Linked DNA regions of Homo sapiens. The protein of the gene in region 2 purifies or fractionates together with the protein of the main gene of each other region. This does not show direct contact. Each region holds a gene or a part of one and is shown on either strand. Other genes may lie near its edges.

The links.
Region 1: the proteins of OMD (region 2) and SUMF1 purify together in Homo sapiens (affinity purification with mass spectrometry; one large-scale study listed by BioGRID and IntAct). This does not show direct contact.

What each region holds. Positions count from the first base shown.
Region 1 is NC_000003.12:4,418,564-4,422,596, forward strand, and holds part of SUMF1 (formylglycine-generating enzyme isoform 1 precursor), read right to left. Parts: intron 1,584-4,033; coding exon 1,501-1,583; intron 1-1,500.
Region 2 is NC_000009.12:92,421,672-92,425,616, reverse strand, and holds the start of OMD (osteomodulin precursor), read left to right. Parts: upstream 1-1,145; 5' UTR 1,146-1,415; intron 1,416-3,945.

The DNA.
Region 1 (4,033 bases), on a different chromosome or scaffold from region 2:
AACCTATGGGCCATATACACCCTAGAGGCCCCTGTGTTGGGTGGAGCTTGGTTGGACCTGCATTGTGGCTTTGACTTCTCCCTCTGCCCAGTCCTGCTCTGGCCCCTGCTTTCTACAGGTGTGGGGCCCTAACATTCTGCATCCTAAACTCTGTTTCAGCCTCTGTTTCCAGAGAACCCAACCTGTGACCCTTGGCTTTCAATTCTGTGTCTTTCTACTTTTCCTCTACAAGAGGCCGGTCTTTTTTTCCTGAGGGTATAAAGGGTGTGGAAGTTTGGGGAAAAAAAACTGAGAAAAAGGGGATAGACTCATTCACCCAGCACTAGATGGCTTTGGCTGAATTCCCTGCTCACTTTTTTAAAAGTGGGCTACAAATTCCTAGTCCATTCCTTATACACCTTTGAATTCCCCACAGTAATTACACCAGGCCTTTCATTTATTCTTTCAACAAACATCTACTGAGTACCTATCATGTGCCAGTCACTGTTTCCAGCACAGACAACAGAGGTACTCTTCTCAGAAGATCCATCGGTGTTGACTGCATGGATAACATACATTCCCCTTTTGGGTTTTCCTTCCTCCCTTAGCATTTTCCTCTGTTACTAAATTCAGGAAAGCAGATATTAACTGGGAGCTAAGAAGCCAAGTCCACCTGAGAAACCCAGGAATCCTATGACTTTCCACCTCGAAGCCTAATTGCAGCACAGCGGCTTCCAATTGAGGCTTTGAAAGATGTTTGACATTTGTCAAGGGGCTATATCCCTAAAGCTGAACTTCCTATACTCGCAGCTCCCCGACAATAAGGGCAATAACCAGGAATGTTGTTAAAAATAGAGACTTAAAAACTGCATCTGAAAAATTAGGTTAGGAGAGCAGGTTTCTTGGGCTGCTGAGATGCTGAGTCCTAACCCAAACCTTGCTCAATCTCCAGGGTTTAAAGTGTTACTCTATTTTTGCTTGAGATAATTATTTCCTTGCCACCCTGGAGACTTGCTGACCGACTTGGCTCTCTGTGGTTTTCCAGTTAGATGGTGGCTTCAAAGAATTCCAATCTGGAACTCAAGATCATGTGAATCCTATACCCAAGGCCTGGGCTTCCACAGTGGCAACCTGGGAGGACACAATTACTTATCCATAAGACAGACGTCTTCTTCCTCATAGACCCGCTAATAATGGAAACAGAATGTAAAGATTAAACATGTCATGAGGTTTGGAATAGGCCTCTCAAAAGGAGCAGGGAAACTGGGAAGAGGCAACTCTTTGACAAGCCAAATGAGGAGAGAAAGAGGCCACTAATTAAGAGCTTTCTTATGAGCAAGGTGCAGTGTTTGGGTCTTTACATACGTTATTTCCCACCATCTTATTTTCCTACCAATCAATTACAGTTTGTCATTCTTATCATTTTATAGATGAAGATGCCCACTGAGTTCTTTTGCAAGAGCAAAGGGTACCTATTTTGCAATGGAACTTGTCAACTGGGGAAAGAGGGACCAGCCTCACCTGTGCAGAATAGTAGAGTCAGGCCCTTCTGGGTGTCTCCAGTTAGCGCCTTTCACAGGTAACCACCAGGGAGCAGCTGCAACCTCAAAGCAACCCAGAACAGGCTGATGTTAGCTACTAACATCAACTCTAGAAAAATATCAACTCAGTACATGCAGCAAAAATCTCAATGTCTTCAACTTCCATTTGGATTACCAAACAAATACATTTGCCAGAATACCAAAATAAAGACTTATATGTAAATAAATCTTTAACAAAAAAAGTATTACTTCATATCATAAAGCCTCACAGCAAACAAATACATATGTATTTAAATGGTGTATATCTATAAGAATTTTTTTTTTTTTTTTGAGATGGAGTCTCGCTCTGTCGCCCAGGCTGGAGTGCAGGGGTTGCAATCTTGGCTCACTGCAACCTCCGCCTCCCAGGTTCAACCGATTCTCCTGCCTCAGCTTCCCGAGTAGCTGGGACTACAGGCACGTGCCAGCAAGCCCAGCGAATTTTTTGTATTTTTACTAGAGACAGGGTTTCACTCTGTTAGCCAGGATGGTCTCGATCTCCTGACCTTGTGATCCGCCCGCCTCGGCCTCCCAAAGTGCTGGGATTACAGGAGTGAGCCACCACACCCGGCCTCTGTAAGAATTTTTAAAAAGTGCATGGCTAGCCAATCCTCTATAATCTCTAACAAGTGAGACAGGTAGTGCTGCTCCTATTTAAAAGATGAGGAAACAGAGTTAACCCTACAATTAAATGTGAGGCTAAAGGTCAACCATGGTGGTCAGAGATCAAGCTGAAGCACAGAAGAAAAAATGGGGTGTATTTTCAAAAGACCCCGATTCAACTTCCAACCCAACATTAGCTGGGTGACCCTGGGCAAGTTCACTACTTGTCTGGACCCTCCTAGTCCTTGTCTGTGAAATGGGAGCACACCCACCTGCCTCACCTAACTCAGAATACAGAGGTCAAGTGAGGTAAGATTGGAAAATGCTCAGCAAACAGTAACTAGAACCTTAACTCCTACTTTATGGTTCTGTTAACCAAAATAACAACAGTCAGGAGTCCTCATTTAGTGAGTGGTTTAGTTAGGAACACAGGCTTTGGAGCCAGTCAAAATGAGATTTGAATCATGGCTCTGCTGTTCACGGTGTGACCCTAGGCAACTTATTTAACCTCTTTCCCCAAGCCTGTTTTCTCATGTGGGGATACAGATAGTAACAGCACCTATATCTTGGGTTATTACAAGGAGGAAATATAATACGCATACAGGACTTATGACTATGCCCTTAGCAACTGAGGTTAATGACTCAGCAAGCACTCAGTAAAGGGAACCAGTCTCACTATGGCCCCATGACACTCAGTCACAAGGAGAGCCACAAAAACTAATCATTGTTGCTAATACTAGCTAAAGAACAGATGTTGCAAATGATTCTTTTTGAGACAGGGTCTCACCCTGTCCCCTAGGCTGGAGAACAGTGGCACGGTCATGGCTCACTGCAGCCTTGACCTCCTCAGCTCAAGTGATCCTCCCGCCTCACCATCCCAAGTACCTGGGACCACAGGTGTGCGCCACAATGCCCAGCTAAATTTTTTGTATTTTTTTGTAGAGATGGGGTTTTGCCATGTTGCCCAGGCTGGTCTTGAACTACTGGGCTCCAGTGATCCCTGCCCAACTTGGCCTCCCAAGGTGCTGGGATTACAGGTGTAAGCTACTGCACCTGGCCTGCAAATGATTCTTCTAATACAAATACAAATACAAAAGAAAGTGACTCAAGGTTATCCCCACAACAATGTTACTCTTTGATTGTTTTCATCCTTTTGAGCTTGTCTGAGTAGAAGTTAAGGGAGAATATGTCCCTGCTAACAATTACAGCAATCACTGAAAACACCAAGCCCCATTCTTGTTCATTCTCTTTTCACATCAACACAATCAGAACATTCATGATATCTCAATCACAATTTGATGGGAAAACCCAATTTTTAAAATATTTCAACAAAAGAAGGCATTAGGTCCTTAAATGACACTATAGCAAGGTGTTTTATTTTACAGAGAACAGGGGAGTGAAGAGGCATGGCTTCTTTCTATTTCATTTGTGGCGCTGTAGAAGTTCCTCTGGGGGCTGTTCTCACTGACTGGGCTGTGCAGGTTTAGGTGCCCATGACAGGTAATTCATTCAGTGTCAAGGGAGGAGCTGCAGTGAAAGCTCAGGTCAGCCCACACTTGTGTTTCAGGAGGATCCTCAGATCATTCTTCCAACTCTACCCTGTCCCCAACACTAAGCACCACCACCAGAAGGTTCTAGTTCTTAAATTAAAAAATAAAAATAAAAAAGCTTAAAAGAATGACAAAATATAGCAATATGTTAACCTCCATGAATGACTTTTCTTCTCATACCCTTTTGTGTCTTAAAATATTTCATCATTAGTGATTTAAAAAAAAAAAAAAACATGATTTGTTTGTCCATTCTACTACTAATGGGTATTTGGGTAGTTTCCAGTTTGGGGCTATTATGAATAGTACTGCTTCTATCAATAT
Region 2 (3,945 bases):
CTTTTTTGAGGAAACAAAATGAACTCCAGGATTCACTTTATCTTATTAGTTTGTAAAAGCTTAAAAGAATTCCCCCCCAAAATGAACTCCGAATCTACTGCCAAAAGACACAAGTCAACTCTCTGTTTAGAATATGAGAACAGTGTAAAAATTAAACATTAAAAACAGTTAACTGTTACTATTCAGGAGAGATAGCTCTATGAAATGAAGAAATTTTCTAAATCTACAAAATAAAGGCAATAGCTATTGAGTAACATAAGCTTTTCATCCCATTTTATTCAATACTACAGAATTATTTTGTGCAATAGTAAAAACAGGCAAATTGAAGATACACCTTTGGAGTGCAACCAACTGACTAATTTTATCTGAAAGGATATTAGAAGTCATTCTAGTGGGTACATCTGCCAAAAAGAGGAGAAATGAGATAGCTGATAAAAATGATGATAAAAATGAAGATGTAAGCCTTTGTATAGAAAAGTCGTATAGTTAATCTGTGTAAGCAATGACAATCAAGTGCATTTTAAAAATAAACAATGCGAAATGTTATGTTTCTAATCCTGATTTCTTGTTTTAACAAATAGAAGTACTGATATGAACCTAGGTGTTGAATAACCAAGGGACTCAAGAAATTTTGAGTTCCAGGCCAGGCGTGGTGGCTCATGCCTGTAATCCCAGCAATTTGGGAGGTGGAGGCGGGAGGATCACCTGAGGTCAGGAGTTCAAGACCAGCCTGGCCAACATGGTGAAACCCCATCTCTACTAAAAATACAAGAAATTAGCCAGGCATGGTGGCTCATGCCTGTAATCCCAGCTACTTGGGAGGCTGAGACAGGAGAATTGCTTGAACCCGGGAGGTGGAGGTTGTGGTGAGCCGAGGTTGCACCACTATACTCTGGCCTGGGCAGCAAAGCAAGACTCCATCTCAAAAAATTAAAAAAGAAATTTTGAGTTCCACCTTAAGTTGCTGAGACTCTGGAGTTCCCTGTCACAGTGGGCCTTAATTTGAAGAATTCTTTGGCATGAAAATGAAAATAAAAACAGTAATCAGTACATGCTGTTTCATTTAGTTTTGTTTGCCTTTCACATTAGAGGAAATTCTTGCCACACCTCAAACCAAAATTAAGGGGAAAAGAAAGAAGTAAGCCACATAAATCTGACCAAGAACACAAGCATCTTAATTTGAATCCACAAAGTTTCATGTAATGAAAAGAAATACATAATTTTAATTCAACCCGAGTGTTTTCCAAGAAGATTGTATTTGCTTAAATTGCTACAGTAATTCAAGAGACAGCCCTGTCTGGACACAGAGTTACTGTGGATTTTTAAGAGACTCAGTTAAAGAATTTAGGAATTTCTGATTCATTTAAAGGATTTACAAATTCATCAACCCCTGAAAACTAAAGCAAATTGAACAGGTATGATAATAAAATAATTTTCAATTTTTTAAGAATGTATTCCTACTGTTAAAATTTAAAAGTATATTGGATTTTTTAATATTAAAATAGACTGCATCTATTACAAAAGCACAATTTTTGGAAGCAAAATCTGGTAAAAAAGTTATGTTAAACTTTTGATTAGGCAAAATGTTCAAATAAAGTAGTATAATGAGTTTAACTTTCTCATTTAAGATTTACCCAATAAAAAATCTTTGTTTAGATTTTTTTTTACTTTGAATGAAAGGAAAGATTCTCAGGTTAAAGGAATCAATCTCTTTCTCTTCCTTAGGTCTCTTTTTTTCTATGAATTATAAGTAACAAAGAACCAGCTAATGCCTTTGAGGCATACAGCTGAGCAATGCTAGTGATTCCGGTTGGGGGGTTGATGGGCATTTGTACAAATTTCACTCAAGATTTTCTCCAAATTTCTCTACTGACTAAATCCCTGATATAGAATGTTTTTCTTTTCATTTACTTCTTTCTCAAAGGGAAAATACAGATGCTCTATCTAGTCTATTGAAGGATCTAGTTACTTTGGGTTTTAGTTAATTACGATTTAAATGTATTATGGCTAAAAATAATTGAGGTAATTGTATTTTTAATAGCAAAAAAATTTTATAAAATTAAAATTTAGAACTTTTTTGGAAAAATCTAAATTATATGCTAATATTTGCTTTCTTATATGCTAGTTTCTATGTCATACAAATAAAAACAATTATGTCTTTAACATAATAAAATGTTGAGGATTTTACTTTAAACTTTTCCTGAACAAGTAAATTATACCTCATTAGTAATTTCAATTGAAACTTTTCTTGATGAACACGAGTGCTTTTCTCCAAGTAAGAGAAATATTATGACACAGATGGTTTTATTGCTATAATATGAAAAATTCACATTGAAAACTGGTAATATATATATATTACTTTGCTCCAAACATTCTTTTTCACATTTGTTCTTTTCCTGCTACACGATGTACTAGGAAAGTGAGGAATACAGTATATTGTGATGAAGAAATATTCAATAGAAAAAGGAACAGTCAAGCTCTCATGAATATGTTCATTTGAAGAAATTATCATAGTGAAATAAATGCCTAGGAATAATCAACATTAGTAGAGAGAAGCATTTGCTAGCAAGCCTTAACCTATAACTTATTAACTTATTCATTCAACACACCTTTGAGCACTTATAACACTGCATTGTATTAGATTCTGTTAAAAGATATTAGGAAATGAGATGATCAACAATGAATTATACAATATTGCTGTGAGTTATCCTATAGAGAACAAGGCATACATTGTAGAGTATGAAAAGCAGAAGTAACAAAAATATGCTTAGCAAATGACTCAGAAGAGATTAGTTGGGGAATGAAAAATTTGGATAAAATAAGAGATTGTTGTAACAGGGGAAATTATCCTGGGGAAAGAGCAAGAGGCATAGAAAATAATGAGCATATAGATGAAAACAGGATGGATTTCAAAACAGAAAACTGCACTTAATCAAAGGGAGTGGGACAAGATTGTACTACATGGTTAGGAACGTGGAGGGAGGAGGACAAGGATGTTTAAGATAAGTTCAGGTTTAGAAGAGAAATTGTTCCTCAAGGAAAGACTTTCTTCTTAGGTGCTCACAAAGGCGGAAAGCAGACAATATTAAAAACCTCTTTATTTTCAGAGACGCCCCAGTCATGTCTTGATTCAAGGCCTTCTTCTTTTTTCCCAACAATTTTTCATAGTTGTTGAACAACAGACTCTAATTCTCAAATGTAAGGTTGATAACTGATGATTAGCTAATGTTCTCAACAAAGGGATAAAATTCAAGCTGAGTTTTCAGCCAGGCAGGTGGCTCACACCTGTAATCTCAGCACTTTGGGAGGCTGAGGTGGGCGGATCACCTGAGGTCAGGAGTTCGAGACCAGGCTGGCCAACATGGCAAAATCCCGTCTTAACTAAAAATACAAAAAAATGTAGCCAGTCGTGGTGGTGCACGCCTGTAATCCCAGCTACTCAGGAGGCTGAGGCACAAGAATCACTTGAGCCTGGGAGGCGGAGGTTGCAGTGAGCCGAGATTGTGCCACTGCACTCCAGCCTGGGTGACAGCACGAGACTCTTGTCTCCAAAAAAAAAAAAGTTAATATGTTATACTATAATAAGTACAATAAAATATTATAAAATTATACATAAAATATCATCAATGAGTATAAAATGTATAGAATATTCTATATCCATTCCTATTAATCTCCCAAAGTCTGGGTCAAATGATGTCTACAAAAGACTTTCCTGTCTCCGTAAGGCTGAGGTAAGCCACTGGCCCCACAGCATTGCCTATCTCTGCTATAAAGGATATTACCCTCTGCCTTAGATTAGGGTTCACTTTGTTGTATCTCTCTCCTCCACTAAGCTGTTTGCTCTTTACAGAAGGGACTATGGCTTCACGTCTTCTTCATTTCTGTATTCTCCACCAACTTAGCATAGTGCCTCATCACTAGAAATAATTCAGGACAACGGTAAAC